7 linked regions of the Homo sapiens genome follow. Changing the gene in region 2 together with the main gene of any one other region gives a genetic interaction. Each region holds a gene or a part of one and is shown on either strand. Other genes may lie near its edges.

Region 1 (4,646 bases), on a different chromosome or scaffold from region 2:
TATCAATGCAGCCTCATCTCTACATACCACTTAGTCTAGCCTCAGCCTTCCAGACTCCCACAGCCTCCGGTTTGGTCTGCCTACACTGCTGCTGGCCACCTCACTTCAATCCTTCCTTCACATAAGCCTCAGGGTGCCTTCTAACACCAACTCTATTCTGGCTCTTCCGCTTGCCCACAGTCAAGTCCAAACTCCTTCCCCAGTGGTCACCCTGATGATCTCTCCAGTCATCACCCAGCACCGCCTCTCATCCTTTGTAATACAGGCAACCTGAACTGCTGGGTGTGGTCACGTGACCCTCCTGGCCAATGGGTGTATGGGGTGCAAGCACATGTGAGGAATCTCGTCCTAGACTGTTATGAGAGAGAGAAAAAAAATCCACCACCGAATTTAAGCCAGAATGTATTCTGGGGTCTATATTAGAGCACCTTAGCCTAAACCCTAAAAAACATGAACTCATCCTTAACAGCACCTGTAACACCTTAATGGCATCATGGGACTGCCTGTCTCTCTCCACTGCCAGTCTCTGAAGGCTTTTGGGGATCAAAACTCTTATTCTAGGCTGGGGGCAGCGGCTCACGCCTATAATCCCAGGCCTTTGGAGGCCAAGGCAAAAGGACTGCTTGAGATCAGGAGTTCAAGACCAACCTGGGCAACATAATATCTTGTCTCTATGGAAAATGTTTTTTAAAATTATCTAGATGTGGTGGCTCTTGCCTGTAGTCCCAGCTACTTGGGAGGCTAAGGTGGGAGGATCACTTGAGCCTGGAAGGTGGAGGCTGCAGTAGACCATGATCACATCACTGCACTGCAGTGTGGGCAATAGAGCAAGACCCTATCTCAAAACATAAATAAATAATTTTTTTTTTGAGACAGAGTCTTGCTCTGTTGTCCAGGCTGGAGTGCAGTGGTGCAATCTTGGCTCATTGCAACCTCTGCCTCCTGAGTTCAAGTGATACTCCTGCCTTAGCTGCCCGAGTAGCTGAGATTACAGGCACTCGCCACCATGCCTGGCTAATTTTTGCATTTTTAGCAGACACGAGGTTTCATCATGTTGGCCAGGCTGGTCTCGAACTCCTGACCTCAGGTGATCCACCCGCCTCAGCCTCCCAAAGTGCTGGGATTACAGGCGTGAGCCACCGCGCCTGGCCATAAATAAAAACTTTAAATTTCTATTTTTCATATCCTCCATGTCCAGGAAAGGCCTCATGAAGAGTGCCTGGAGGAATGAACGCATGAACACACAGCTATGCCCACAAACATGCAACTCAGCAAAGATCTGGATGTCTGTTGAGATATCAGCAGATTCCTGGTCAATCTAGGTAAACCCTAGCAATCTAGGAAGACCCGCCTGTCCCCTCCACAAACCCAGAGCTGAGATCCTGGTGCCCTTACCTCATCCTTCAGCTGAGCCAGGAAGAGGGGCAAGAGGTGCTCGATGGTGTTGTCTTTGCCCAAGATGGGAGAGAGACCCATGATGACTGAGGCCAGGGCAGACTTGACATGTTGGTTGGCATCGGACACCAGCTCCTGGGAGAGAGAAGAGGCAGGCACAGGGGTCAGTGCAACCCCTGCAGCAGCAAGTGGCTAAGCAGATGCCAACTCCTAAGAGACAATAACCTGCTTCTGCCCCTCTCATTCATAGAGCAGGGGATGGCTTAGGGTACAGGGGAAATCACTATTCCTTATGAGTACCACCTACTTAAGAGTTCAATGACCCCTGCTCTCAGCAGCCCCCACTCCAACCCCAAAACCCTGTGAATGACAGGACTCAGTGACATCTGAGGTTCTAGAAAGTACTTCCACCTTTAAGGTCAGCCTCAAGCTGCAGTCAGGACCCCTAACTGCTTGAAACCCAAGAGCTGCCTGGTCCCAGAGGGCTGGGAACCTAGTTTGCAGCTGACTATCCCCAAAGCCTTGTCTCCAGCCCCTCTTTTTGGCAGGCTCGGATCCACTTGGTTCCTCCCATCAAACTCTCTGTTACCTTGATGCAGGGCAAGATCTGGGACATGATCACATTCTCCCGACAGTCAGCTGAGAGGTTTTCACAGAACTCTGTGGGCAGGGAGAGGGAGGCAAAGGGAAGTGAGACCTGATGTGCTAGTTCCACCTCCAGCCCCTTGGATACCCACCCCACTTGCTGTGTTCCGGCTGCCAGCACCAACCTTTGACCTTGTGGGAGGCTGCGGCCCTCACCTCGGCCTCACAGTCTTTCATCAGGTTCTGGAAGGCAGGGACCAGGTCTGTCTTGGTGATCTCAGGCCCCACTGCTTTCTGGAGCTGCAGACAGGAAGGAGGAGGGGGAGAGTGAGAGGGGCTGGCAGTTTACTCTGGGCTAAGGAAGCCAAAATCAAAGTGAAGGCACCAGAATTAGGGGACAGAGCGTGGGCCTTGGAAGCAGTGCTAAAATCTAATTCGAGTGCCAAGACTGGCCCCGGGGCAAGGCTCTTCACCTCGCTGAGCCTCTTTTGCTTCCAAAGAAAAATGAGGACTGCGAGGGCACCTACCTCACGGTGTTGTCAGCATTAAAAATAACACATTTCCATATTATTCAGGCTACTGAGGTTAAGTTTTCTGTTACCTGATTCAAAAACATTCAAATGATATAGTGACTGCAACTTTTTGATTTATATATGGCTGTATTTCTTAAAGATCTGTTACCAGAAGCACGAATTACTTTTGTAATGAAAATAAAACAATAGGCCAAGTGCGATGGCTCATGCCTATAATCCCAGCACTTTGGGAAGCTGAGGTGGACAGATCGCTTGAGTCCCAGAGAACAAGACCAGCCCGGGCAACACAGTGAAACCCTGACTCTACAAAAAAAACAAAACAATTAGCCGGGTGTGGGGGCAGGCACCTATCGTCCTAGCTACTCAGAAGGCTGAAGTGGGAGGATCACCTGAGCCCAGGAGGTCAAGGCTGCAGTGAGCCGTGACTGTGCCACTGCACTCCAGCCTGGGTGATGGTGTGAGACCCTGTCTCAAAATAAAAATAAAACAATAAAGATTGACAGAAAGGAAGGCACTCTAGGGCTGGGCGTAGTGGCTTACACCTGTAATCCCAGCGCTTTGGGAGACAGAGGTGGGTGGATCACTTGAGGCCAGGAATTCGAGACCAGCCTGGCCAACATGGTGAAACCCCATCTCTACTAAAAATACAAAATTAGCTGGGTGTGGTGGTGCACACCTGTAATTCCAGCTACTCAGGAGGCTAAGGCACGAGAATCACTTGAGTCTGGGAGGTGGAGGTTGCAGTCAGCTGAGCTTGTGCCACCGTACTCCAGCCTGGGCAAAAGACTGAGACTCTGTCTTAAAAAAAAAAAAAAAGGGAGGCACGCTTGGCCCTGCCTGTTTCATGGCACCAGGCATGGAAAGACGCACGGCTCCTGCTGCAAAGCTGGTTCCTGAAGACCTGGTAGGAAGCAGGACAGTTCATTATGAAGACGGGAATGAACAAGTAAAAATCTTGAAGGACCTCATGATATCTTGGGAAAATACTGCCTTTTATTCATCTTGCAAATATTTACTGAATGTCTACTATGTGCCAAGAACTGGTTTAACAGCCTAAAATTCCTGCCCTCATGGAATTTTTATTCTAAGACCCAGTGTGACACAGTTTATGCAGCTCAGGAGACAAGGATGGGAAGAACCTTCCCTAACTGTGGTGATGGTACGCTATTCTGAAGCTCTGAGTCCTTCCCGCAAATGCCAGTGGGAACCAGCATAATTAAAGGCAAAGGGCGCCTCAGGGTGGAGTGGCACTCAAGGCCTCTCTGATCCCACCCTGCCCTCTCTCCGATCCCACCCTGCCCTCTCTCCTGCTTTCTCTCAGGCTGGGCCATCAAGATCAGGCCTGAATGTTCCTGCTTGCACTTGCTCTCACCTCCCAGGGTTCTTTGTCCTCTGGCTGGAACAAAGTTCCTATCTTAGCTCTTACCCACTCATCTTCTAGAACCAGCTGTAACACCACCTCCCCTCCTCAATGCTTCCAAGGCCCCACATCTGTCTGTCTGTCCCACACCTGTGACACTTTATAATCAAATTTCCCCTAAGTCAGTCTTCCCCTTCAGACTGCCTAGCTCCATGAAGGCCAGGAATGATCCGAATTCACTGGCCCAGCAAATAGCTGGTGCTCAGCAAACATGTTTGTGGGATGAGGCAATCTGGATCCCTGTGGAAGGAGCACTGTCCTGAGAGTCACAGACCTGGAGTCTTGTCCCCTTTCTGCCTGGCTGGTAGTGTCACTCTGATCAGTTAATTAAACTTTCCGGGGCTGGGCGCGGTGGCTAACACCTGTAATCCCAGCACTTTGGGAGATGAAGGCAGGCGGATCGCTTGAGGTCAGGAGTTCGAGACTAGCCTGGCTAACAACATGGTGAAACCCCGTCTCTAATAAAAATACAAAAACTAGCCGGGTGTCGTGGTGGGCATCTGTAATCCCAGTCCCTCAGGAGGCTGAGGCAGGAGAAATGCCTGCACCCGGGAGGGACAGGCTGCAGTGAGCCAAGATTGCGCCACCACACTCCAGCTGGGTAACAAGACTCTAGCCTGGGCGACAGACTCCATCTTAAAAAAAAAAAAAAAAAAAAAAAAAAAAAACACCAAAAAACCCCACCTTTTTGGGCTGTCTTCCCCTTTGTGAAA
Region 2 (3,898 bases):
CTTGACTTTGTCATTCGCCTGCCTCGGCCTCCCAAAGTGCTGGGATTACAGGCGTGAGCCACTGTACCTGGCCTTTTGTGTTGTTTATTATGATTTTCATTTCTGAGTTAAGTTGCATTACTTTTTTTTTTTTTTTTTTTTTTTTTGAGACAGGGTCTTGCTCTGTCACCCAGGCTGGAGTGCAGTGGCATGATCCCAGCTCATTGCAACCTCTGCCTCCCAGGTTCAAGCGATCCTCCCACCTCAGCCTTCCAGGGATGTGGGACTACAGATGCACACCACCATGCCCAGCTAATTTTTGTAGAAACGAGGTTTCACCATGTTGCCCAGGCTGGTGTCAAACTCCTGGGCTCAAGTGGTCTGCCCACCTCGGCCTCCCGAAGTGCTGAGATTACAGACATGACCCACTGCACTGGGCGACATTACTTATTTGTTAATTAATGACCATTGCCTGGTGGCAGTGTAGAGGAGTGGCACAAACTAAAGTCCATAAAGTATATGTTAAATTATGAGGCATAAGTTCTAAACACTAGGAAATCAACAAAAAGGACCATTATGACAATAAGGAGTGACTTCATGGAGAGGGCGAGAGTTGATGAGGGTGAAAATGAGTAGATTTGGGATGAGTCTGCAGAATAATACAAGGTTAGAATGAGCTCTGTAGGAAGCACTGGAGTTTGGCTCAATAGAATGGAAGTTCTAGGTCAGGGACTAGTGGGAAGTAAGATTGGGTTTAGAGGAGCTTGAACAACTCTCTCAGAAATGCAGGGTAACAATCTTAAGAGTTAAAAAGAAATGTATGAAAACTCAGCCTTCCATTTAGAAAACAGTTCAAGGCTGGGCCTGGTGGGTCATGCCTGTAATTCTAGCACTTTGGGAGGCTGAGTGAGGCGGATCACCTGAGCTCAGGAGTTCGAGACCAGCCTGGCCAACATGGTGAAACTCCGTCTCTACTAAAAATACAAAAATTAGCCAGGCATGGTGGCATGTACCTGTAATCCCAGGTACTAGAGAGGCCGAGGCAAGAGAATCGCTTGAACCTGGGAGGCGGAGGTTGTAGTGAGCCCAGAGTACGCCACTGCCCTCTAGCCTGGGTGACAGAGCGAGATCCATCTCAAAAAACAAAAAGAAAAAGAAAACAGTAGGCCAGGCGTGGTGGCTCAAGCCTGTAATCCCAGCATTTTGGGAGGCCGAGGCTGGTGGATCACCTGAGGTCGGGAGTTCGAGACCAGCCTGACCAACATGGAGAAACCCAGTCTCTACTAAACATACAAAATTAGCTGGGTGTGGTGGCACATTTCTAATCCCAGCTATTTGGGAGGCTGAGGCAGGAGAATAGCTTGAATCCGAGAGGTGGAGATTGCGGTGAGCCGAGATCGCGCCATTGCAGTCCAGCCTGGGCAACGAGCAAAAAAAAAAAAAAGAAACAGAAAACAGTTCAGATGTCCTGTGAGTAAATGTTTTTCCCATCCAAAGAGAATCCATTTAAACATATACATTAACCATGCATTTTTCTATAGAAATTTAAATTATAAGTTACTGGAAATTGTAATATATCAATCCATGAAAGGAGTGTGATTTAAGATTTTCTTGGGAAAAAAAGGGGACTCATTAACACATACTACCATTTTTTAAATTTTTAGACAATGCAGATAGTAGTACACTCCATGCTGTAACCTTTCTTCGAACTCCTGAGATTCTTACTGTAAATTCAATTGGACAGTTGAAAATATGGGATTTCAGACAACAAGGAAATGAGCCTTCTCAGATATTGTCACTGTAAGTGTTGATTTGTAATTTCAGTAATGTAATCCACAAATTAATGTGTTAGGTTGTTTATAGCTACTGGCTTTAAGCCATATTGAATTTTAATTGCATTTTAAGAGGGAGATCCCTGATTAAAATTTGGTAGAGCAAGCATAACTTGACGGGGTTGGTACTACTATGCTTCATTTAGTAATTATTTGTTATAGTGATTCAGAGCCTTTACTCTTTGAAGTTTGTATTATTTCATGGAGAACTTATTTCTGCTCTTTCAATGATTGTTTAATGGATAAAATATACTCCAGATGTAATGATTGGGGGAAAAATATAATTCCAAATATTTTTTCTGAGCAGAAATCCCCCTTTGTAGGTGTACAACGTTCTCTCGTAAGAAAATAGAATGTGTCACACTGAAAAAATAGTTACATAAACTAAGCATTAAATAAGATGATAAATAATATTTAGTATATAATTGATGTATGAGTTTTTAAATAATTTAACAAGTGGAAATGTGATTTGTACATCTTACCATCGGATTGTCTTTCATTCCATGTCTCCAAATTGAAGTGAAAATGAATAATTGTGGCCTTGAATTATTTCAAAATTGTACTATTTAGAAATATATCTAATTTAGTTCATTTTTTTTGGTATCATTAAGATTCAGCCAGGCTGGGCGTGGTTGCTCATGCTTGTAATCCCAGCACTTTGGGAGGCCGAGGCAGGCAGATCACTTGAGGTCAGGAGTTCAATACCAGCCTGGCCAACACAGTGAAACCCCGTCTCTACTAAAAATACAAAAACTAGCCAGGCATGGTGGCACGTGCCTATAGACCCCGCTACTCAGGAGGCTGAGGCAGGAGAATCACTTGAACCTGGGAGCCAGAGTTTGCAGGAGAATCACTTGAACCTGGGAGGCAGAGTTTGCAGGAGAATCACTTGAACCTGGGAGGCAGAGTTTGCAGTGAGCTAAGATCGTGCCATTGCACTCCAGCCTGGGCAACAAGAACAAAACTCTGTCTCAAATAAAAAAAAGATTCAGCCAGTAGCTCCAGCCACTAAGTTGACACTTAGTTACCATATAAAACATGTTTCTTGGCTGAGCATGGTGACTCATGCCTGTAATCCCAACATTTTGGAAGGATTATCTGCGGTGAGAAGTTTGAGACCAGCTAGGGCAACACAGTGAGACCCCATCTCTACCAAAATTTCTTAAAATAGCCTGGCACGGTAGCATGTGCCTGTAGTCCTAGCTACTTGGGAGGCTGAGGCAAAAGGCTCTTTTGAGCCCAGCTTGCAGCAAGCTGTAGATAGGCCATTGCACTGTAGCCTGGGTGACAAGACAAGACCCTGTCTCTCTTTTTTTTTTTTTTCTTTGAGACAGAGTCTTACTCTGTCACCCAGGCTGGAGTGCAGTGGCATGATCTTGGCTCACTGCAACTTCTGCCTACTGGGTTCAGGCGATTCTCATGCCTCAGCCTCCCAAGTAGCTGGAACTACAGGCATGTGCCACCATGCCTGGCTAGTTTTTGTATTTTTAGTAGAGATGGGGTTTCGCCATTTTGGCCTGGTTGGTCTTGAACCTCAAGTCATCCACCTGCCTTGGCCTCCCAAAGTGCTGGGATTACAGGTGTGAGCCACTGAGCCTGGTCTCTTAAAAAATAAACAAAAAAAAACAGGCTGGGCACGGTTACCAGTCATCCCAGCACTTTGGAAGGCCAGGGTGGCTAGATCACTGGAGCCTGGGAGTTTGAGACCAACCTGGGCAACATGGAGAAACCCCATCTCTACAAAAATACAAAAAGTTAACCAGGCATGATGGTACACACATGTACTCCCAGCAACTCAGGAGGCTGAGGTGGGAGGATACCTGAGCCCAGGGAGTTTGAGCCTACAGTAAGCAATGATTGCAGCGCTGCATTCCAGCCTGGGTAAGTGAGGCCTTGTCTCAAAACAAACAAAAAACGTGTTTCCTGTGTTACACAAAGATAAATTATACTTTATTTGATTTTGACGTCATTGTTATCTCCCACAAAAGGACTGGTGACCGAGTGCCACTCCACTGTGTTGATAGACATCCCAACCAACAGCATGTTGTAGCTACTGGTGGCCAAGATGGAATGTTGAGTATTTGGGA
Region 3 (3,810 bases), on a different chromosome or scaffold from region 2:
GGGTCTCCGGCGTTTTGCATTTCCTCTGGTGTGTGGATATCTGGGGTCCTTTGAGATGGGGAAGTGACAGGCTTCAGTGGGAGAAACAAATTAAAGTCCTTGTAACTTCTCCCCACAGAGCCTGTTTCAGGGCAGTAGTGATGGAGTGGAGGTTCGATATGATTTACTGGATTGTCATATCAGCATCTGTTCTCCTCAGGTGAGCTCTTTAGGGCTGGGGCTGCACACCCAAAGAGTAGAACTCTGTGGGTCTGTTATTGTCCCCTTAGAAGGCCAGGGTATATTTCTTCTCCCTGTTTATTTTCATTATTTTTACTTTTATTTTTTGAGACAGAGTCTCGCTCTGTTGCCCAGGCTGGAGTGCAGTGGTGTGATCCCAGCTCACTGCAGACTCTGCCTCCTAGGTTCAAGTGATTCTCCTGCCTCAGCCTCCTGAGTAGCAGGGATTACAGGCACACCACCATGCCTGGCTAATTTTTGTATTTTTAGTAGAGATGGGGTTTCACCATGTTGGCCAGGCTGGTCTCGAACTCCTGGTCTCAAGTGATCTACCTGTCTCAGCCTCCCAAAGTGCTGGGATTACAGGCATGAGCCACCACACCTGGCCTTATTTTCATTTTTATTTATATATATTTTTTGAGACAGGGTCTCGCTCTGTGGCCCAGGCTGGAGCACAGTGGCACCATGACTGCTCACTGCAGCCTCAGCCTCCCAGGTTCAAGGGAACCTCCTGCCTCAGCCTCCTGAGTAGATGGAACCACAGGCATGCACTACCACTAATTTTTGTATTTTTTTGTAGAGACGGGGTTTTGCCATGTTGTCCGGCCTGGTCACGAACTCCTGAGCTCAAGCAATCTGACCACCTCAGCCTTCCAAAATGCTGGGATTACAGGCATGAGCCACCAGTTTTTTTTGTTGTTGTTGTTGTTATTGTTGTTTTGAGATGGAGCCTCGCTCTGTCGCCCAGGCTGGAGTGCAGTGGCATGATCTCAGCTTACTGCAGCCTCCACCTCCTGGGTTCCAGTGATTCTCCTGCCTCAGCCTCTCAAGTAGCTGGGACTACAGGTACGCACCACCACATCCGGCTATTTTTTGTATTTTTCAGTAGAGATGGGGTTTCACCATATTGGCCAGGCTGGTCTCTAACTCCTGACCTCAGGTGATCCTCCCGCCTTGGCCTCCCAAAGTGCTGCAATCACAGGTGTGAGCCTCTGCACCCAGCATTTTTTTTTTTTTTTTTTTTTTTTTTTTGAGTCGGAGTTTCACTCTTGTTGCCCAGGCTGGATGCAATGGTGCGATCTCAGCTCACTGCAACCTCCACCTCCCAGGTTCAAGCAATTCCCCTGCCTCAGCCTCCCAAATAGCTGGGATTGCAGGCATGTGCCACCACACCCAGCTAATTTTTGTATTTTTAGTAGAGACGAGGTTTTACCATGTTGGTCAGGCTGGTCTCGAACTCCCAACCTCAGGTGATCTGCCTGCCTCGGCCTCCCAAAGTGCTGGCATTACGGGCATGAGCCACTGCACCTGGCCTTTTTTTTTTTTTTAGAATCTATTGTAAAGCAAAGATCTTGTCTCCAGTATCCCACTGGGAGTCTCTTTGGAATTCTGGTCCATGTTCAGCTGTCATAGGGTTTGCTAGGTCTCTGGGGGATTATCTGTGCTCCTAGAGAATAGTACTTAATCCTGGCCAAGCGTGGTGGCTCACGCTTGTAATCCCAGCACTTTGGGAGGCCGAGGTGAGTGGATCATGAGGTCAGGAGTTCAAGACCAGCCTGACCAACACAGTGAAATCCCATCTCTACTAAAAAATAAAAATACAAAAATTAGCTGGGCGTGGTGGCGGACGCTTGTAATCCCAGCTACTTGGGAGGCTGAGGCACAAGAATCACTTTAACCCAGGAGGTGGAGGTTGCAGTGAGCCGAGATCATGCAACTGCACTCCAGCCTGGGCAACAGAGCTAGACTTGTCTCAAAAAAAAAAAAAAAAGAATAGTACTTAATTCTAGCCCACTCCACTTCCCTTCCACAGGTGGCACAACTCTTTACAGACAACTTTGACTACCAAACTCGAGATGACTTTGTGCGAGGTCTCTTAGTGAATGAGGAGGTGAGAAAAGTCTTCCAATGCCTCTTTAGGAGAGAGGAGAAGGCTATGATTGTATCTCATGCTGGTAACTTTTGATCTTTTTTGTATTTTATTGAGGCTTAGGAGGGAGGAAAAGCAGGGGACAGGAGGAACAGTACACAAAGAAGAATCTTTGTGGCAGTGAGAGGCAGAGGGGAACTTAAAAGGATTAGAAAAGTTGTACTTGGGGGCATTCTTCCTGTCTTTCTTGCTTAGGTGACCTCCCTTTCCTTCTCATTCAGATCCTAGGGAACCAGATCCACATGCACGTAACAGCTAAGGAATATGGTGCCCGTGTCTCCAACCTACACATGTACTCAGCTGTCTGTGCTGACGTCATCCGCCGATGGGTCTACCCTCTCACCCCAGAGGCGAACTTCACTGACAGCACCACCCAGAGCTGCACTCATTCCCGGCACAACATCTACCGAGGGCCTGAGGTCAGCCTGGGCCATGGCAGCATCCTAGAGGAAAATGTGCTCCTGGGCTCTGGCACTGTCATTGGCAGCAATTGCTTTATCACCAACAGTGTCATTGGCCCCGGCTGCCACATTGGTGAGCACAGGTGGGGAATCAAGCCAACTATCCTAGGAACAGGAACCTGGGGGGGCCACGTCTCCAGAAACACAAGGGATGGCTACACAAGGGACAGTCCCTGGGAATAAGGAACTATAGAGCGGCTACCTCAGGAAAGGAGGAAACAGGGATTTGAAAACAGCGATACCTTAATTTGTAGCCTGTGGGCCTCTCATTGGATGACTCTTCACATTCCAGGGTACCCTGTAGTCACATTCAGGAGCAAGTAGATAATTAACATGCAGTAACAACATCTATTTAGCACATTACAGTTTACAAAGGGCTTTTATATACATTGTTACATTTAATCTTCATAATTTACAAATAAACAGGCTCAACAAGATTTTCTTGCCCAAGGTCATTGGTAATAATGGTGGGACCTGAATCTGGGTATTCTGAATGTAAGTCCAGTGTTCTTTTGAGTCTACCATAACTGCCTGGTTGGCCTCTTGGTATCTCATTTTGGTTGCAGGAGTGTGATGCGTCTAATAGTACTGCCCCTTTCCAAGAACAACAGTAAGGCTCAGATTCTAGGGGCTGAGCGTGGTGGCTCATGCTTGTAATCCTAGCACACTGGGAAGCCATGGTGGGAGGATCGCTTGAGCCCAGGAGTTCAAGACCAGCCTGGGCAACATAGCGACACCCCTTCTCCACAAATGATACAAAAATTAGCTGGGCATGATGGCGCGTGCCTGTAATCTCAGCTATTCGGGAGGCTGAGGCAGGAGGATTACCTGAGCCCAGAGGTCGAGGGTGCAGTGAGTCATGATCATACTACTGCACTCCAGCCTGGGTGATGGAATGAGACCGTGTCTCAAAAGAAAAAAAAGACTTGGTTTCTAAAATGTACCAGAAGAGGTGGAATTATTTGGTTCTGCTTGTAGGCGTGGATATGATTCTAATAAGGTTTTTTGAGTTCAGAGGGTCCCCAGAAATCCTGAAGGTTCTCGGGTTCTTAAGCTCTGTGTGTAGTCTATAATTGTTGTAAACTTGGTGAAGTATCTTCTCAGGCCTGGGCTTAGGGGGTGAGTGGGTGTTTCTGGTGACTTGCGGGATGGGGAATGAGAGCTAGGTGGGAGCTGTGCTGGTGTCAGTCAGCCCTGTCC
Region 4 (4,646 bases), on a different chromosome or scaffold from region 2:
AATAAAGACATGAATTTCTATAATCTATAACAATGCTTCAATAATACTCATACCTAGAAGCTGCAGCCCATATAAGTGGACAGATTGCTAGCTCCCTGTGATTCCTGTGGTGATAATTTGCCCAAGAAACTGGATTTGAAAGGTGTTGCAATGTTGGTGTTAACTAATATTAAATGCCATTTTTCTATATAAGGAGGAAATATGCATCTTTTCTATTATTGCAAACACCTTGTATAAATTGTATTAATCTTTTACAAAGTTCTCTACAAAGAACAGTTACAAAAGTTTAATCTATCCAAAATGTGTATGAGTAATGTGTAATGAGTTACTGTGTTAAAAATAACGTGTTTTCTAGATTACCAGACTAGAAGCTCCCTGAGTGCCCGGAGTACATCTGTCTTGTTCACTGGGTTCTTTGTATACAGTAATTGTGTTTCAGTACCTTGAGTATTTACCAGGTTGGACTTCATTGACTGACTGGTTAAATGACATGTGCAGTATGATAACGAAAGCTAAGAGTTTCTCAGTTTAAGTTATACAACAGTTCTCCCCTGACCCCCAACCTCTACCAGCCTTATTTTCCTGGTAAATACGTTCTAAGATCCACAGTGGATACCTGAAACAATGGATATTACTATATCCTATCTATACTATGTTTTTTTCTATATGTATATACCTATGATGAAGTTTAATTTATAAGTCAGGGACTGTAAGAGATCAACCACAACAATAATAAAGTAGAACAGTCATTACAGTATGCCATCATCACTACTCTTGTGCTTTGGGGCTATTATTAAGTAAAATAAGAGTTACTTTGAACACTGACACTGCCATATGTGGACAGTTGATCTACTACCCGAGACAGTTACTAAATGACTAATGGCAGGTAACATATGCAATGCAAATATTTGTTGACCAAAGGGATGATTCATTTTCCAGGCAGGACAGAGTGGGACAGTGCGTAATTTCATCACACTACTTAGCGCACAATTTAAAACTTATGAATTATTTCTGGAATTCTCCATTTTTATATCTTTGGACAGTGATTGACTCAGTTGACTGGGGGTAACAAACCCTCAAAAGCAAAACCTTGGATAAGTGAGGGACTACTGTATATATACACACAGTTGTTTTCAGACGGCTTCTGTCGCCTAGGCTGGAGTGCAGTGGAGCAGTCACGGCTCACTGCATCCCCAACCTCCCAAGGGCTCCCTAGTAGCTGGGACTACAGGTGTGTGCCACCATGCCCAGCTAATTTTTTATTTTTAGTAGAGACGAGGTCTTCCTATGTTGCCCAGGATTGTCTTGAACTCCCGGGCTTAAGCAGTCTGCCTGCCTTAGCCTCCCAAAGTGCTGGAATTACAGGTGTGAGCCACCGTGCCCAGCCGTTATACAGACGGTTACATGCAGGTGTGTGTGTATATATATATATATATATATATGTACACACACAGTCATGTGCACACACATGCACACAGTCACGTGCACACAAACACAGTCGTGTCATTTAACAATGAAGATGGGCATTGTTAGGCGGTTTTGTTGTGTTATCATAGTGTGTTTACACAAACTTAGGTGGCATAACCTACTACATATCTAGGCTGTATGGTATAGTCTATTGTCCCTAGGCAACAGATCTGTTGGGCGTGCTACTGTAGGCAGTAGTAACACAATGGGAAATATTTGTGTATCTGAACATCAAAATGATGACTGTGCCACAACATTTGTATATACTATGTGTATATACTATGGCCCTCACTATAGTAATTTCTTAGGATAAAATTGCCTGTCTTGGTTCACTTTAGTTTGGGCTCTGTAAGGCATAGAGTACATATTGATACTCCAATATATTTATTTTACCTATAGTATAAGTAAGGTAGAAAATTTAAAATGATATCTTTGCACTTAAATTGTATGTTTTTATAAGAGCGGTTTTGGATGGGAAATCCAAGTTTTTAAACTTCATTTGGAGGAATGACGATTTTCAATGACAAAAACTGAGAAACTGGTCTAAATGTACAACGTACATTACAAGACAATAGAAGGGGGAGGTTCTAGTAATCTTGCTCCATTGCCAAGTCCCACTAAAATTATATTAAATGAATTAAAATATAATTTATTTTGGTACCTTGTGTTAGAAAACAAAATGTGTAGTATATTTAGTATTTAACTTTCCTTAAATACTAAATCTTAGTCTGATGCTGGAACCTCACATGTTAATAAATAGCACTGTCTTCTGACCCAGAAGCTTCTGCAGTAAAAAATGACTGTCCCAGATAAAGGTTAATTTTCTACCCTGATATCCCTAGAGTTAAAGTTTGTGACCTTCCTGGCCAAGAATGTAAAGATTATGGTAAATTTTAAGTTCCCATGTTTACCTAAAACAAAAATCCCCCAGCCAAGCAACAAACAGCTAGCTTTGTTATTTCTAACATCTTGTCAGTTTTTGAACAGGCCTTAAAAATAATGATTTTTTTTGTTGTTGGCGGGGAGACAGGGTCTTACTCTGTTGCCCAGGCTGAAGTGCAGTAGTGCGATCAGGGCTCACTGCAGCCGCGACCTCCCAGACTCTGGTGATTCTCCCACTTCAGCTTCCTAAGTAGCTGAGACTACAGGTGCGGTGCACACCACTAATTTTTGTGTTTTTTGTAGAGATGGGGTTTCATCATGTTGCCCAAGCAGATTTCAAGCTCCTGAGCTCAAGCTATATGCCTGCTTTGGCCTCCCAAAATGCTGGGATTACAAGTGTGAACCACCATGCCCGACCTGTTACTCTTTTTATATCCTTGTTTACTTCCTGTATCCTGGGAATCTGTACCTTTACCTCAAAACTCATTTTGCTATTAGTTTGTGTATAATATTAATACAAAACATTCACACGTGATTATACTTTCACGGAGGAATCTAGCAGCCAACTGTGGAATCTATCAGCCAGCTGTTTCATTTTTAATTGAGGCAGCACTGAAGAGTCATGCAATTCCAAATAAAAATCTGGGTTTCAGAGTCCTCTTGAAAATGTGGAAGATCTGACAACACAGTGCTTGCAACTGTCAAGGAAGTTAATCTTCTGGAGTTGAGTAGGATTGTCCCCTTTAGCTTTCCTCCTCTTTCCCAAAGTATTATATACGGTATACTAAAACTAGTTTGATGTTCCTGTGCCTTAGTGTATTAAACTGAGCCTTGGGTTTTTTCAAGTTTAAGATCAGTGTTATGCAGGGGTTGCAGATGTGTGTGCATGCCAGAATCTGGCAGATAAAGATAAAGTACTTGCTTAATACGTTAGGTATCATGAGTTTGTTTTTTTTTTTTTTTAAGAGCCAGCATGCTCTTTGTTCAGGTAGTAATACTGATTCACCAGATACAAACTCATTCACCAGATACAAACCCAGATTGTCTCATGCAAAACTTTGACATATGTTACCTTCTCTGTGTCTTAACAGAAGACTAGACTCTTCCAGCTGGTTGTTTTCAGGTGAGAATCTGGGCCCCTAATAATCAAATAGTATTTTTTTAAGTGGGTTTTCATATTAAATCCTTAGAATTTTTAAAAACAGCATTCAAGAGCTGAGTTTATCCTCTAGACTGCTAGTGTAAAACTTTTAGATAGATTTGAATTTTAGCTCTAAATGTAAATACTGTTTAATGTAGGATTGTTTCATTAAGCTTATTTCTTGAACTGGCACATTATAAAAAAATCCATCTTTTTGTGACATCTTAATTTTGGAACAAAATTTTATAGATTTTAACCTGAGGTCAGGAGTTCAAGACCAGCATGGCCAACATGGCAAAACCACTTCTCTACTAAAAATATAAAAATTTAGCTCGGCGTGGTGGCAGGTGCCTGTAATCCCAGCTACTTGGGAGGCTGAGGCAGGGAGAATTGCTTGAACCTCAGAGGCGGAGGTTGCAGTGAGTTGAGATCATGTCACTGCACTCCAGCCTCGGCAACAGTGAGACTGTCTCAAAAAAAAAAAAAATTTTTTTTTTTTTTTTTTTAAAGATTTTAAGTGATTTTTTAAGGCCGGGCACGGTGGCTCATGCCTATAATCCCAAGACTTTGGGAGGCCAAGGCAGGTGGATCACCTGAGGTCAGGAGTTCGAGAACAGCCTGGACAACATGGTGAAACCCTGTCTCTACTAAAAATAACAAAAATTAGCTGGGCATGGTGTGGCGGGCCTCTGTAATCCTAGCTACTCGGGAGGCTGAGGCAGGAGAATCACTTGAACCTGGGAAGTGGAGGTTGCAGTGATCCCAGATTGCGCCACTGCACTCCAGCCTGGGTGACAGAGAGAGACTCTGTCTCCAAAAAAACAAATTAAAAAAAAAGTGATTTTTAATGTCTATAGTTCTCTATATAGACATCTAAAAAAGGCTTTCAATGTGAAGTGCTTTATGTCATAGAAATTAGGATTTTTGTAGTGCATGAATTGTATGCTTATAGGCCTTTTCTTAACCTGGCATTTCTAATCTTTGTTTACTGTTGTTATTCTTGGGTTGGGATACTACTGTCAAACTATTATGAAGTAATTGAAAGTATACATATCTCTATATAGAATATCAATAATGTTAAATTTCAGGACAAAGGAAATGGTTAAAAACGTTTGTTCAGGTAGGTTAAAAGAAAGTCAACCTAGAACTAGTGGAT
Region 5 (4,432 bases), on a different chromosome or scaffold from region 2:
CTAGCTCTGTTGTCCAGGCTGGAGTGGTGCAGTGGCGTGATCTCGGTTCACTGCAACCTCCGCCTCCAGGGTTCAAGCGGTTCTCCTGCCTCAGCCTCCCGAGTAGCTGGGATTATGGGCGCCCGCCACCACGCCCAGCTAATTTTTGTATTTTTAGTAGAGATGGGGTTTCACTGTTTTGGCCAGGCTGGTCTCGAACTCCTGACCTCATGATCCTCCTGCCTCAGCCTCCCAAAGTGCTGGGATTACAAGAGTGAGCCACTGCGCCTGGCCTTTTTCTTTGTTCTTATATTTTTGTCTTTTTTTTTTTTTTTTTTTTGAAACAGAGTCTCACTCTTTCACTGAGGCTGGAGTGCAGTGGCGTGATCTTGGCTCACTGCAACCTCCACCTCCTGGGTTCAAGCGATTCTCCTGCCTTAGCCTCCCGAGTAACAGGGACTACAGGTGCCCACCACCATGCTGGGCTAATTTTTGTATTTTTAGTAGAGGCGGGGGTTTCTCCACACTGGCCAGGCTGGTCTTGAACTTCTGACCTCAAAAGATCCACCCACCTCGGCCTCCCAAAGTGCTGGGATTATAGGCATGAACCACCGTGTCCGGCCATATATTTTCGTCTTTTGAAGACTGTTATATACATGAAATTATATGGTATGTAGCATTTTGAGAGCGACTTCTTTTGCTATGAGTAATACATTTGAGATTCATCCATATTTCTCAGTATATTAATAGTTCTTATTTCTGAGTCACTCCATTGTGTGGATTTACTACTGTTTGTTCCCCAGTTGAAGGATGTTTAGGATCTTTGCAGTTTTGGACAATTACAAGTAAAGCTGCTATAAACATTTGTATGCAACATTTTGTGTTTTCATTTATCTATAGTAAATACCTAGAGTTGGATTGCTGGGATATATGGTAAGCATATGTTTGACATTTTAAGAAACTTCTAAACTGTTTTTCAAAGTGGCTCTACCATTTCACATTCCCATCAGTATGAAAGTTTCATTTCCACATCCTCTCTAGTACTTGGGGGTGTCAGTTTAGTTTTTTAATTTTTAAATTTTTTAATTTTTTTAATACATTTAAATAGAGATGGGGTCTCACTGTGTTGACCAGGATGGTCTTGAACTGCTGGCCTCAAGTAATCCTCCCATCTCGGTCTCCCAAAGTGCTAGGATTACAGGTGTGAGCCACCATGCCCAGCCAGGTTTTTTGACATTAAGTATGTGGTGGTATCTCATCGTTTTTATTTGCATCCTCTAATGATTTGAGCATATTTTATATGCTTATTTGCTATCTACATATCTTCTTTGGCAAGGTGTTCACATCTCTTGCATATTTTGGATTGTTTTATTATTTTTGAATTTTGAGGATTATATGCTGGATACAGGGGTGTTTTTTTTTTTTTTTTTTTTTGAAACAGAGTCCTCACCCAGGTTGGAGTGTAGTGGTGCAATCTCGGCTCACTGCAACCTCTGCCTCCTGGGTTCAAGTAATTCTCATGCCTCAGCCTCCTGAGTAGCTGGAATTACAGGCGCAGGCCACCATGCTTGGCTAACTTTTATATTTTTACCAGAGACAAGGTTTCACCATGTTGGCAAGGCTGGTCTTGAACTCTGGACCTCAAGTGATACACCCGTCTTAGCCTCCCAAAGTTCTGGGATTACAGGCATGAGCCATTGTGCCTGGCCAGTATCTTGTCTTCTCATTCTGTAAACGGTGTCTTTTTTTCATTATGGGAAAGCTTTATTGACACATTTGTTTTTATTTTTAAAAATTATGGTAAAATACACAGAACATAAACGTTACCATCTGATATGGTTTGGCTGTGTCCACACCTAAATCTCGAATTGTAGTTCCCATAATCCCCACACATATGTACCACATTTTCTTTATCCAGTCTTTCGTTGATAGACATTTAGGTCGATTCCATGTCTTTGGTATTGTGAATAGTGCTGCAGTGAACATATGTGTGCATGTGTCTTTATGGCAGAATGATTTATATTATGCATAACCAAAACTGTACTTATTAAACAATAACCTCCCAACCCCTTCTGCCCACAACCTCTGGCGACTGCCATGCTACTTTCTGTCTCTGAATTTGAATACCCTGATAGTCATATAATATTTATCTTTTTGTGACTGGCTTATTTCACTTTGCATAATGTATTCAAGCTTAATCTGTGTTGTAGCCTGCGTCAGAATTTCTTTTCTTTTTAATGCTGAGTATTATTCTATTGTGTGTATATACCACATTTTATTTATCCATTCATCCACTGATGGACATGTGCATTGTTCCCACCTTTTGGCTATTGTGAAAAATGCTGTTATGAATATGGGTATGGAGATCTCTCCCCTTATTTTGAGACAGGATCTCACTGTCACCCAGGCTGGGGTGCAGTGGTGTGCTCATAGGTCACTGTAGCTTCGACCTCCTGGGCTCAAGCGAACCTCCCACCTCCGCCTCTTGAGTAGCTGGGACCACAGGCATGTGCCACCATGGCTGTTAAATTTATTAATTTGTTTTTCTATGGATCATGCTTTTTGTGTTACATCAGAGGAGTCTTTGCTTAACATGAGATGACAAAGGTTTTCTCCCATGTTTCCTCCTAAAAGTTTTATAGTTTTAGGTTTTACATTTAGGTCTATGATCCATTTTGAGTCAATTTTTGTATATGGTACAAGGTATGAATCTATGCTTTTTAAAAAAATATGGTTACCCAATTTTTCTAGCAGTATGTGCTAAAACTTTGCTAAAGTCACTTAGTTCTAGTAGCTTTTTTTGCAGATTTAACCAGACTTTCTACATAGACAATCATATCTTCTGTGAATAAACATGGTTTTATTTCTTCATGTCTAATATATATGTCTGCATTTTTTTTTTTGTCTTATTGTAGTCGCTGGGACTTCCAGTACTACACTGAGTAAGAGTGGTGGCCAGGTGCGGTGGCTCACGCCTGTAATCCCAGCGCTTTGGGAGGCTGAGGTGGGCTGATCACCTGAGGTCGGGAGTTTGAGACCAGTCTGACCAACATGGAGAAACCCCGTCTCTACTAAAAATACAAAATTAGCTGGGTGTGGCAGCGCATGCCTGTAGTCCCAGCTACTTGGGAGGCTGAGGCAGGAGAATCTCTTGAACCCAGGAGGCAGAGGTTGCAGTGAGCCGAGATCACACCATTGCACTCTAGCCTGGGCAACAAGAGCGAAACTCCATCTCAAAAAAAAAAAAAAAGAATGGTGAGCACAGGCATCCCTGTCTTGTTTCTGACTTTGGGGGAGAGTATTCTTTCTGCCTTTAACCATTAAGTATGTTAGATTTTTGTATTGCCCTTTACTAGTATGAGGTGCTAAGGGTTTGTTTTAGGAATGGATGTTAGATTTTCTTAAATGTTTTTATGCATCTATTGAAATGATTACATGGTTTTTCTTTTGTGGTTTGTTTTTAATGTAGTTTTAATAAATTATATTGATTGATTTTCTTATGATAAACCAATCCTGCATTCCTGTGATAAACCCCACTTTGTCATGATGTATTATTCTTTTTTTTTTTTTTTTGTGAGACGGAGTCTCACTCTGTCACCCAGGCTGGAGTGCAGTGGCATGATCTTGCCTCACTGCAACCTCTGCCTCCCGGGTTCAAGTGATTCTCCTGCCTCAGCCTCCTGAGTAGCTGGGACTACAGGTGCGTGCCACCACGCCCGGCTAGTTTTTGTATTTTTAGTAGAGATGGGGTTTCACCATATTGGCCAGGCTGGTCTCGAACTCCTGACCTTGTGATCCGCCCGCCTCAGGCTCCCAAAATGCTGGGATTACAGGCATGAGCCATTGCACCCAGCCTATTCTTTTAATAAATTGTTGGGAAGTTATATTAGTTTCTATTGCTGCTGTAAAAAATTAGCACAGACTTTGTGGCTTAAAACAACACAAATCTATCATCTTACACTTCTAGAGGTGAGAGGTCCCAAATGAGTTTCACTGGGCCAAAATTGGTGTTGTCAGGGTTACACTCTCTCCAGAGACTCTAGGGGAGAATCCATTTCCTTGCCTTTTTCAGCTTCTAGAGGCTGCTTAGATTCCTAGAATAATGGCTTCTTTCCTCATCTTCAAAATAACTATGTAGTATCTTTTTTTTTTTTTTTTGAGACGGAGTCTCACACACTGTCGCCCAGGCTGTTGTGCAGTGGCACGATCTCCGCTCACTGCAACCTCTGCCTCCTGGGTTCAAGTGATTCTCCTGCCTCAGCCTCCCAAGTAGCTGGGATTAGAGGCATGCGCCACCATGCCCGGCTAATGTTTTGTATTTTTAGTAGAGATGGGGTTTCACCGTGTTGGCCAGGCTGGTCTTGAACTCCTGACCTCATGATCCATCTGCCTGGGCCTCCCAAGGTGCTGGGATTATAGGCGTGAGCCACGACGCCTGGCCAACAATGTAGTA
Region 6 (4,584 bases), on a different chromosome or scaffold from region 2:
GGTAAAATTGCTGACCTCAGTTAGGTCTTATGGTGGTTCTCCTGCCAGAGGTGGTTGGGTTTCATTTTTATTAAAAAAGTGAAAATAGCTGTTGTAATTAGACCTGTCTTGTTCTTGATTAGGTTTAAACTGGTCTCTCCAAGCTGCATCTGTCATAATGAATACATCTTGACACTTTCCTTGGACTGGGAGCACTGGCCCCATACGGAAAGGCTGCTGGTGCAGGCAGGAGTCTGAACCTGCCCTTCTCCTCAGATGGCTTCCTTGCCCCGTTGGTTCTCAATTTCCTCATCTGAGGGGTTGGCTTGCGAAGCCTCTGTAGTGTGGTTCTTTGTTCATTTTGAGCTTCAGCTCTTTGCTTGTGAAGGATTTTATTCTTGGCTTTTGGTGGTGTCAACACATTATGGGTTAATGCTACTATTAAAATTTGTCTCTAATGCATGAAGCTACTTCATTGAAAGAGGAATTTTTGATATAGTATTCATGGTCATTATAAGGATAGCAGATTTGGTCCAGCTTATTGGCAGAGTTAATAATATACTTTCCACTTCAGTGATTATACTGTAGAAATTAACATCTCAATTTTGTTTGAAACTTTCCCATTTCAGACAACATGCCAATTTGGCTGGCACGCTGAGCGGCCATGCCTCCTGGGTGCTGAACGTTGCATTCTGTCCTGATGACACTCACTTTGTTTCCAGGTACTTAATGATTCTTAGCAGTTTCTAAAATGCTGGGGAGATGAGAGCAGTCTTCTTGTATAGATTGCCTTAACATTTAAAGATGTTTGACCCTTTTTTATTCAGTTAGCCTTTCTTTTCTGCAGTTCTTAAAATTTTTATTTAGTGATGTTAGTTGACCTTAGCTGGAACAAAAGTCAACAAGTAATCCTTTTAAACAGTAAAACTCTTAGTTTTTTCATTATAAATTGAGGCTTCTACCAAAGTGACTCTAAGGTAGACTTGTGTTCCAATGGTAACTTAAAATATGTAAATGTTTGTAAAATGTTGTTTATAGATCCCAGTGTTGGTCAGGCCTGGGATGGCCAAGACAGTTGGAAAGCAGGAGATGGACAACTTGAAGGCATTGCACAGTGCTTTAGAGGCCTCCTGCGAGCCTTGGTTTTGAAGCTTTAACAGGCCTCCCTCCCATCTGGAAATAGGTAGCTGTGTCTGAGACTCCTGGAGAACAATTAATATGAGGGCCAGGCAGATCACAATTTCAGGAAAATGGCTACCCTGTGAGGAGAGAAAGCCACCCAATGATGCTGATACCTGGCCATTTCCTGTACCGAGGCATGGGGTTGGGGGGTCTGAAGTTAGAAGAATGTAAGTCATCAAAGGATTTTTGGTCGAAGTCCTTCCAACTTCAAACCGATACTAATGTTCACTTTTTAAAATAGTTCGTCTGACAAAAGTGTAAAAGTTTGGGATGTTGGAACGAGGACTTGTGTTCACACCTTCTTTGATCACCAGGATCAGGTATGGCATTATTATTTCATCTTTAGATAGTCGGGGTTGTTTGACCATTGTACCAAAGAGATTTTCTTTTCCTGACCTTGTTGCTTGAGCTGTGGATACCAGTAGATGCCTGGGCCTGAGCTGCTCTATCTGCTCAGTCATCCATGTAGCCAGAGTTCCTGTGCAGAGTCTGGGGTGCAGAGGCTGGGATGTGCTGTCAGCCTAGCAACTCACGAGGCATATCCCCACATAGGCTGGAAAACATGGTGTTAGCCCCACAGCCTTTAAATGCCGTCTTTGGAAATTGCTGCAGCTGGTGTCTGGGGCCCTCTCCTGGGGGCTGCTGCGCCATGGCAGGCTCACCAAGGACCTTCCTCTTCAGGAGATTCCATTGCTTAAACACAATCATCGCTTGTCATTTTTGGGACTGTCCAAAGAAGAGATGTGATTTTTTTTTTTTTAATATAGTAGAAGCTGGAAATTCATACAAGTTTTTTGGCTTTAGTGTTATTGATAACTTTTCAGTCTTTAAAAGGAAACTGTTCTCACAAGCAACTTTATCTTTGCCAAGGTGAATATGTGAAATAGCAAAGGTGTTCTAGTGCAATACTGCTGAGTCTTTCATGTGTGCTCGTATCCCCTGGGAACCTGGTGAAAATGCAGATGCTGCTTCACTAGGTCTGGCAGAGGGCCTGGGATTCTGCATTTCTAACAGGCTTCCAGGTGAGGCCAAGGCTGCTGGTCCTAACCACACTGTAAGGTCTTGGGGAACTGAGCATAAAAAATAAAATGTCCATGGCAATATAATATTGGCTTTTAATATATTTTAAATATTTTTAGATGGTCCTATAGATTTCTCCTCTTTGAAATGGAACTTAAAGTTAACTAACATTGTTCATGCTTATTTTTCAACTTAAATTGTCCCAACAAAATTGAGGGGGTTCTATCTTGATATTCCACTTCTGGATTTAAGCATCTTACTCAGGGAGTAAGTCCTGGCTAGCTGTGTTTCCTTGTATGTATGGATCATTGCGGTGCTGTGTCAGAGGCTGGAGTGAAAGGCCATCATGCAGCCCAATCCCAACACTAAAATCAGAGTAGGGTGACAGGCTTACCACCCAGAATCACCTCCTAATAATCAGGAAGTTATTTATGATTAGAGAAACTCCAACCACATCAATTCTGTCTGGGAAGGAGGTGTGAATCAGTTAATTTAACACATAGCAAATAAAAATCTATGGTCCACAATATCATGTTGTCTAGCTCCTGGGGACAGGCAGGCTCCATAGGCCACTAATAACAGAGTGAGAATTACTGACTGTGGGGGGCGGACACAAGGGGTCAGCTGAGGAGCGCAGTTTGTGACTTTCCCTATAGGCAGTGACCTCGGGGTAGTTGTGGGGCTCTTTCTTCCTGGAAGCATAAATGTTGGTCTCTTATGGCTTCCGTCTTCCTGGCATTAGGTTACACTTCAGGATTCTGACTCTTTGAAAGGGTTGTAGATAGTCTTGATTAGTACTGTATTTAAAAATGATTTTTTTTTTTTTTTTTGGAGTATGGGAAGGGGCAGGAATTCTAATTAAATAGCAATAATGGAAGGTGCTCGGTTAAAGCCTCCATTCTCACTGATTTAGAAAGTACAAGAACATCCTCATCTCAGTTTTGGTAGATTCAGAATAACGAGAAAATAAGGATGTTCATTTCATAAATATTATAAAGAATAAAGGCATTTGTAGAACTATCTTTTTTTAAATTTACAGGTCTGGGGAGTAAAATACAATGGAAATGGTTCAAAAATTGTGTCTGTTGGAGATGACCAGGAAATTCACATCTATGATTGTCCAATTTAAACATCAAAGTCTCCAGGCTTATGCTGCAAAGAGAATGTACGGATTGATCATGACATTCCTTACCTTCTTAGGCTTGTTTAAAAGAAATATAGCATTTATTGTAGCAAAGACTTAAATTTTGTAGATACAATATGAATCTTTTCATGTTTTATTGGAAATGCTGTTCATACTTTAACATAAAGCTTTCTTAATGCAAACACTGGTGTCCTTGAACATGCTTCTTTTTTCAGTTACCCTATTACCAGTGAAACAGTGAGAGGGATTGGCATTAAGAGCAAATCTCTGCCTTAGCCATCAAGAGATCCAGGTATTTCTTTAACTTTCCAGCTTAGAAATACAGGCTGACTCTTCCAGGGAGTTGACTTATGCAGTGAGATACAGCAGCGAGCTCCCCGGAGCTGTGATAAAGAAGCTAATCTATTTTAGAATGGAGTCCTGAAGGAAAGAGTATATTTGACTGCATAGGAACATTATGTACTCCTGTCTATCTGGGCATCCTTCCACTTGATGTATTAAAGATGTCCCCTGCCAAGCCCTCCTTCCCCTTATTAATTTCAGAGAGGTCTCTAACTCGCTAGGTGGGTATCGGAAGGCAGGCTGCTATTCTTGCTGCCTTAACAATGCCTAGGCTGAAGCCTGTGCCTCATGCTGTAGAACTGTAGCCCTGCCTTAGTTATTTCAGAGTATCTGTACCTCAGAGTTTCCTCTTCATCAGCCCCCTTGAGACTCATGTTAATGAGAAAGATGTAAGTAGCTGAACACTTGGAAGCGTGTTTTTTATTGATCATTACTTCATATGCTTATGAGTCAGGTCATGTGCTTTTCCTCAAACCACTCACTGCCCTCAGAATAAAGCTCACACTCTTTATCATAGCCCCCCACTTCTCCCTCCTGCTTGCCTTGCTCACCCTCCTGTAACCACATCATCCTTGCCATTCCTCTGCCTGGAATGTTTTCCCTCCAGACCTTCGGACATCTGCTCCCCAGCTGCATCCAGGATTCTGCCCAGATGCCAGCTCCTGGTAGAGGCCTTCTTCCCATTCCCTTCTACTCATTCCCATTCCTCTTGTTCTTCATAGCAGTTACCACTTTTTGTTTGCATTCACCCCCACCCCCAAAATAAAGCTCCATGAGGGTGGAAACTTCATTCCATTATGTCAACCAATGAGAGGCAAGCTGGCAGGCACCTAACACTGTTTATGTGAGCTCTCAAAAAAAGGAAAAAGCAAAGCCACTTATCTCTCATACCAGCTCAATTTTAATTTTAAAGTGAC
Region 7 (4,646 bases), on a different chromosome or scaffold from region 2:
CATGAGCCACTGTGCCCAGCTTTTTTTTTTTTTTTTTTTTTTGAGATGGGGTCTTGCTATGTCACCCCGGCTGGAGTGCAGTGGCATGATCTTGGCTCACTGCCACTTCCGCCCCCAGGTTCAAGCTATTCTTCTGCCTCCGCCTCCCGAGTAGCTGGGACTACAGGCATGCACCACCATGCCCAGCTAATTTTTGTATTTTTAGTAGAGACAGGGTTTCACCATATTGTGCCCAGCTTTTTTTTTTTTTTTTTTGAGGAGTCTCACTTTGTCACCCAGGCTGGAGTGCAGTGGCGTGATCTCGGCTTGCTGCAGCCTCCGCCTCCCAGGTTCAAGTGATTCTCCTGCTTCAGCCTGCTAGTAGCTGGGATTACAGGTGCCCATCACCAGTTCCAGCTAAGTTTTGTATTTTTAGTAGACATGAGGTTTCACCATGTTGGCCAGGCTGGTCTCGAGCTCCTGACCTCAGGTGATCAGCCCGCCTCGGCCCCCTAAAGTGCTGGGATTACAGGTGTGAGCCACCGCACCTGGCCTTATTTGCAGCTATCTATAAATCTAATTATTTCAAAATACTTTTGGTTTATTTGTTTGTTTGTTTGTTTGTTTTGAAACAGGGTCTCACTGTGTCACCCAGGCTAGAGTGCACTGGCACGATTTTGGCTCACTGCAACTTCTGCCTCCCAGGCTCAAGTGATCCTCTCACCTTAGCTCCTGAGTAGCTGGTACTACAGGCATCCGCCACCATGCCCGGCTAATTTTTGTAGAGACAGGGCTTCACCATGTTGCCCAGGCTGGTCTCGAACTCCTGAACTCAAGCAATCCACCCACCTAAGCTTCCTAAAGTGCTGGGATTACAGGCATGAGCCACCACGGCTAGCCTCAAAATACATTTGTGAAAAATTATCGCTTGTTGGAAATTGAATTTTTAACTTACATAAACATCTTTCTGATGAGCTCCAAGAACATTTCTATGACTACAGTTTCTACATGTTTGTATTATGCTAAGAGTTATTTCTTATCGCTTTTTTAGGTGGAATTGAGACTGGATCTATCACAGAAATGTTTGGAGAATTCCGAACTGGGAAGACCCAGATCTGTCATACGCTAGCTGTCACCTGCCAGGTGAGCTGTTGGGGCTATAGCTAATCAAATAAGCAAGCATTACTTCATTCCTGCTATTTGCAAGCATCTGTTAGGATGGCCATAAAAGGTACTTTCTCTGTCCTCAAGAATCTTATAGCTGTTAATAGTTAGAAGATAGACTCCTACTTCAAAATCCTTCCATGTCATAGAAACTTCCAAATCATTGATCTCCTATCAGATACGTTAATTTCAAATACTTTTGCTACCAGGCCTTTTCCTGGCTTTACTTGCTACTTTTTTTTTTTTTTTTTTTTTTTGAGGCAGAATCTCGCTGTGTCGCCCAGGCTGAAGTACAGTGGTGTGATCTCAGCTCACTGCAACCTCCTCTCTGGTTCAAGTGATTCTCCTTCATCAACCTCCCGAGTACCTGGGATTACAGGCGCCCACCAGCATGCCCGGCTAATTTTTGTGTTTTTAGTAGAGAGGGGGTTTCACCATGTTGGCCAGGCTCCTCTTGAACTCCTGATCTCAAGTGATCCACCCACCTTGGCCTCCCAAGTGCTGGAATTATAGGCGTAAGCCACTGCGCCCAGCCCTCCATCTTCTTCATTAGTCTAGATTTTATGATTCATCATTAAAGTAATTCTCTTGCAGATAGCCTCAGTTTACATACCCACTTGAAGAGATGCCAACCTTAGATGAAACTCATCTATCTTCTCAGTGTCTGTACCCAAATAGCTGATTATACTGGAGAAAAATCGTATCATACAGCTGACTGACTTCACTTTAAATTCAAGATGACAGGCCAGGCACGGTGGCTCACGCCTGTAATCCCAGTACTTTGGGAGGCCGAGGCGGGTGGATCACTTGAGATCAAGAGTTTGGCTGGGCGCGGTGACTCACGCCTGTAATCCCAGCACTTTGGGAGGCCGAGGTGGGCGGATCACAAGGTCAGGAGATTGAGACCATCCTGGCTAACACAGTGAAACCCCATCTCTACTAAAAATACAAAAAATTAGTTGGGCGTGGTGGCGGGTGCCTGTAGTCCCAGCTACTTGGGAGGCTGAGGCAGGAGAATGGCGTGAACCCGGGAGGCACAGCTTGCAGTGAGCCGAGATTGCGCCACTGCACTCCAGCCTGGGCGACAGAGCGAGACTCTGTCTCAAAAAAAAAAAAAAAAAAAAAAAAAAAAAGAAGAAGAAAAAAAAAAGATCAGGAGTTCAAGACCAGCCTGGCCAACATGGTGAAACCCTGTCTCTACTAAAAATACAAAAATTAGCTGGGCGTGTTGGCACGTGCCTGTAATCCCAGTTACTTGGGAGACTGAGGCAGGAGAATCGCTTGAACCCGGGGGGCAGAGGTTGCAGGGAGCTGAGATCGCACCATTGCATTCCAGCCTGGTCAAAGAAGCGAGACTCTGTCTCAAAAAAAAAAAAAAAAAAAAAAAGAATGAAAAAAGGAAAAAAATTCAAGATGACAAAACTTTAGATTAACATTCAAAACTTCTTGGCAGTCTACTTTCTCCATTTAGGTGTACTTTCCCACTGAGTTAGACAGGCATCTCATATCTCATACTTCGTCTTCTGTTATCAGAACTTTATGCTCCTCTTCAACTCTCATTCTTAGCCAAAAACCTAACCTGCTCTTTGCATCAAATCTACATTTGTGCCCATCTTTTCTTATCTCAGGTTACAATTGAGAAAGTGTCCCTTTTCTTCTCAAAGGCCCATTCTATCAATATGATTTGGTTACCATCTCCTGCCACCTTCTCAAGGACTCTACTCCTTCCATTTTCTCTTGTACCTCTCTATGAGATTATCCTCATCAGTATACAAATATGTCTAGTGTCTCCTCCATTAGGAAAAAACCTTCCCTGGACCCCTTCAGTTTCTTTTTCCTTTACTTATGCTCCTATTGGTGGGAAGATTTGGAAATAGACACAGTAGGTTAAATAATTGCCCAATACATTGTATTTAAGTAGCAAATACTGGACTCAAACCAGACTTCAGAGATGATGTTCTTAAAACTTCATAAGAGGCCAGCATGGTGTTTCATGCCTGTAATCCCAGTACTTTGGGAAGCCAAAGTGGGAGGATTGCTTGAGACCAGGAATTTGAGACCAGCCTGGGCAACATAGTGAGACCCTGTTTCTGAGATGCCATTTCTAAAAACAAACAAACAAAAACAGACAATTAAAAATATTAGCCCAGCATGATGATGTGTACCTGTGGTCCTAGCTACTCAGGAGGCTGAGGTGGTAGAATCTCTTGAGCCCAAGAGGTCGAGGCTCCAGTGACTGGGATCGTGCCACTGCATGTTTTCTGCTGTATTGCTAGTGCCTAAGGCAGTGTTTGGCTCTCAGTAAACAATAAATGCTTGAATGAGTGGAGATAATAGATGTCCAAAAACATGCCTGATATATAAAATGAATGTCACAGAGGAAATGGGTTAGCTGTTTAAGGAATAGAAAGGGGTAATTTCACCCTAGAGTGATCATGGAATACTTTATGGAGAAAAGATTTTGGACCAGACTTCTGAAGAATGCTAAATTTGGGAAGGAAGGAAATTAAAAGCATTTAACTGTATAGAATGGGATGAACAGAGGATGGGAAGGCATAAGTTAGAAGGAAAAGACAATAAATAAGCAAGGTCATTTAACTGGTTTAGAGTTTGTGTAGAAAAGTTGTAGGAGATGACCCTTAAAAAGATACATCAAACTGGGCATGATAGCTCACACCTGTAATCCCAGCACTTTGGGAGGCCACGGTGGGTGGATCGCTTGAGCTCAGGAGTTTGAGACCAGCCTGGGCAACATGGCAAGACCCTATCTCTACAAATAATATAAAAATTAGCCAGACGTGGGCTGTGCCTGTAGTGGCAGCTACTTGGGAGGTGGAGGCGGGAGAATCGCTTGAGCCCAGGAGGCCAAGGTTGCCATGAGCCAAGATTGTACCACTGCTCTCCAGCCTGGGCAACAGAGCAAGATTTTGTCTCCATCTCAAAAAAAAAAAAAAAATTAAGATCCTATTTCAGAAGGTTAAGAAGTTTAAACTTGATTTTATGAAGAGTAAGCATTAGCTGGTCAGGAAACTAAGATAGTGACAATAAAGAGAAGTAGGGAAAAGATGTTGTAAAGGGCAGCGCTTGATGACTGACAATAAAAAATACACCTCAGCCCAACAATGTATTACAGTAACTTAGTAAACCTAAAAAGTGTTTGAGAGGGGAAGACAGTTTTGTTGGAAACATGAGTACAGGTTTAGAGATGACAGGTTTGAGGTGACAAACCCCGAGTGAAAATTTCTAGCTGTATTGAGAGATGTGGAACTAAGTCACACAGAGAAGTAAAAATGGAATCTGGAAACGAAAGATCCATGAGAAAGGAAGGGAGTAGGATATAGAAGAGAAAGCTAACAAACTTTCATCTTTTCTGCAACTTCAGGCAGTGTAATGGGGAGCCGTTTTTCCTTGTCTAAGTGAGTCTTAATGTTCTCTGGCTTTAAGGATGTGCTGCATAAGTGGCCAGTCCACAAAGTATCCTTGAACCTGGCCCATGCCCATGG

What was found.
Region 1: changes in NUP43 (region 2) and PPP2R1A together harm fitness more than expected from each alone (negative genetic interaction), as found in Homo sapiens cells (one large-scale study listed by BioGRID).
Region 3: changes in NUP43 (region 2) and EIF2B5 together harm fitness less than expected from each alone (positive genetic interaction), as found in Homo sapiens cells (one large-scale study listed by BioGRID).
Region 4: changes in NUP43 (region 2) and YTHDC1 together harm fitness more than expected from each alone (negative genetic interaction), as found in Homo sapiens cells (one large-scale study listed by BioGRID).
Region 5: changes in NUP43 (region 2) and GNL3L together harm fitness more than expected from each alone (negative genetic interaction), as found in Homo sapiens cells (one large-scale study listed by BioGRID).
Region 6: changes in NUP43 (region 2) and SKIC8 together harm fitness more than expected from each alone (negative genetic interaction), as found in Homo sapiens cells (one large-scale study listed by BioGRID).
Region 7: changes in NUP43 (region 2) and RAD51 together harm fitness more than expected from each alone (negative genetic interaction), as found in Homo sapiens cells (one large-scale study listed by BioGRID).

Annotation. Positions count from the first base shown.
Region 1 is NC_000019.10:52,213,413-52,218,058, reverse strand, and holds part of PPP2R1A (serine/threonine-protein phosphatase 2A 65 kDa regulatory subunit A alpha isoform), read right to left. Parts: intron 2,281-4,646; coding exon 2,166-2,280; intron 2,056-2,165; coding exon 1,985-2,055; intron 1,531-1,984; coding exon 1,396-1,530; intron 1-1,395. UniProt on the Homo sapiens protein: The PR65 subunit of protein phosphatase 2A serves as a scaffolding molecule to coordinate the assembly of the catalytic subunit and a variable regulatory B subunit.
Region 2 is NC_000006.12:149,736,524-149,740,421, reverse strand, and holds part of NUP43 (nucleoporin Nup43), read left to right. Parts: intron 1-1,643; coding exon 1,644-1,779; intron 1,780-3,799; coding exon 3,800-3,898. UniProt on the Homo sapiens protein: Component of the Nup107-160 subcomplex of the nuclear pore complex (NPC). The Nup107-160 subcomplex is required for the assembly of a functional NPC.
Region 3 is NC_000003.12:184,138,048-184,141,857, forward strand, and holds part of EIF2B5 (translation initiation factor eIF2B subunit epsilon), read left to right. Parts: coding exon 1-28; intron 29-118; coding exon 119-199; intron 200-848; exon of another isoform or gene 849-877; coding exon of another isoform or gene 878-892; intron 893-2,032; coding exon 2,033-2,110; exon of another isoform or gene 2,111-2,168; coding exon of another isoform or gene 2,169-2,174; intron 2,175-2,370; coding exon 2,371-2,683; intron 2,684-3,810. UniProt on the Homo sapiens protein: Acts as a component of the translation initiation factor 2B (eIF2B) complex, which catalyzes the exchange of GDP for GTP on eukaryotic initiation factor 2 (eIF2) gamma subunit.
Region 4 is NC_000004.12:68,342,875-68,347,520, reverse strand, and holds part of YTHDC1 (YTH domain-containing protein 1), read left to right. Parts: intron 1-4,646. UniProt on the Homo sapiens protein: Regulator of alternative splicing that specifically recognizes and binds N6-methyladenosine (m6A)-containing RNAs.
Region 5 is NC_000023.11:54,564,433-54,568,864, forward strand, and holds the end of GNL3L (guanine nucleotide-binding protein-like 3-like protein), read left to right. Parts: 3' UTR 1-2,857; downstream 2,858-4,432.
Region 6 is NC_000015.10:78,282,158-78,286,741, reverse strand, and holds the end of SKIC8 (superkiller complex protein 8), read left to right. Parts: intron 1-608; coding exon 609-701; intron 702-1,017; coding exon of another isoform or gene 1,018-1,081; exon of another isoform or gene 1,082-1,402; coding exon 1,403-1,481; intron 1,482-3,220; coding exon 3,221-3,310; 3' UTR 3,311-3,507; downstream 3,508-4,584. UniProt on the Homo sapiens protein: Component of the PAF1 complex (PAF1C) which has multiple functions during transcription by RNA polymerase II and is implicated in regulation of development and maintenance of embryonic stem cell pluripotency.
Region 7 is NC_000015.10:40,707,995-40,712,640, forward strand, and holds part of RAD51 (DNA repair protein RAD51 homolog 1), read left to right. Parts: intron 1-1,030; coding exon 1,031-1,122; intron 1,123-4,646.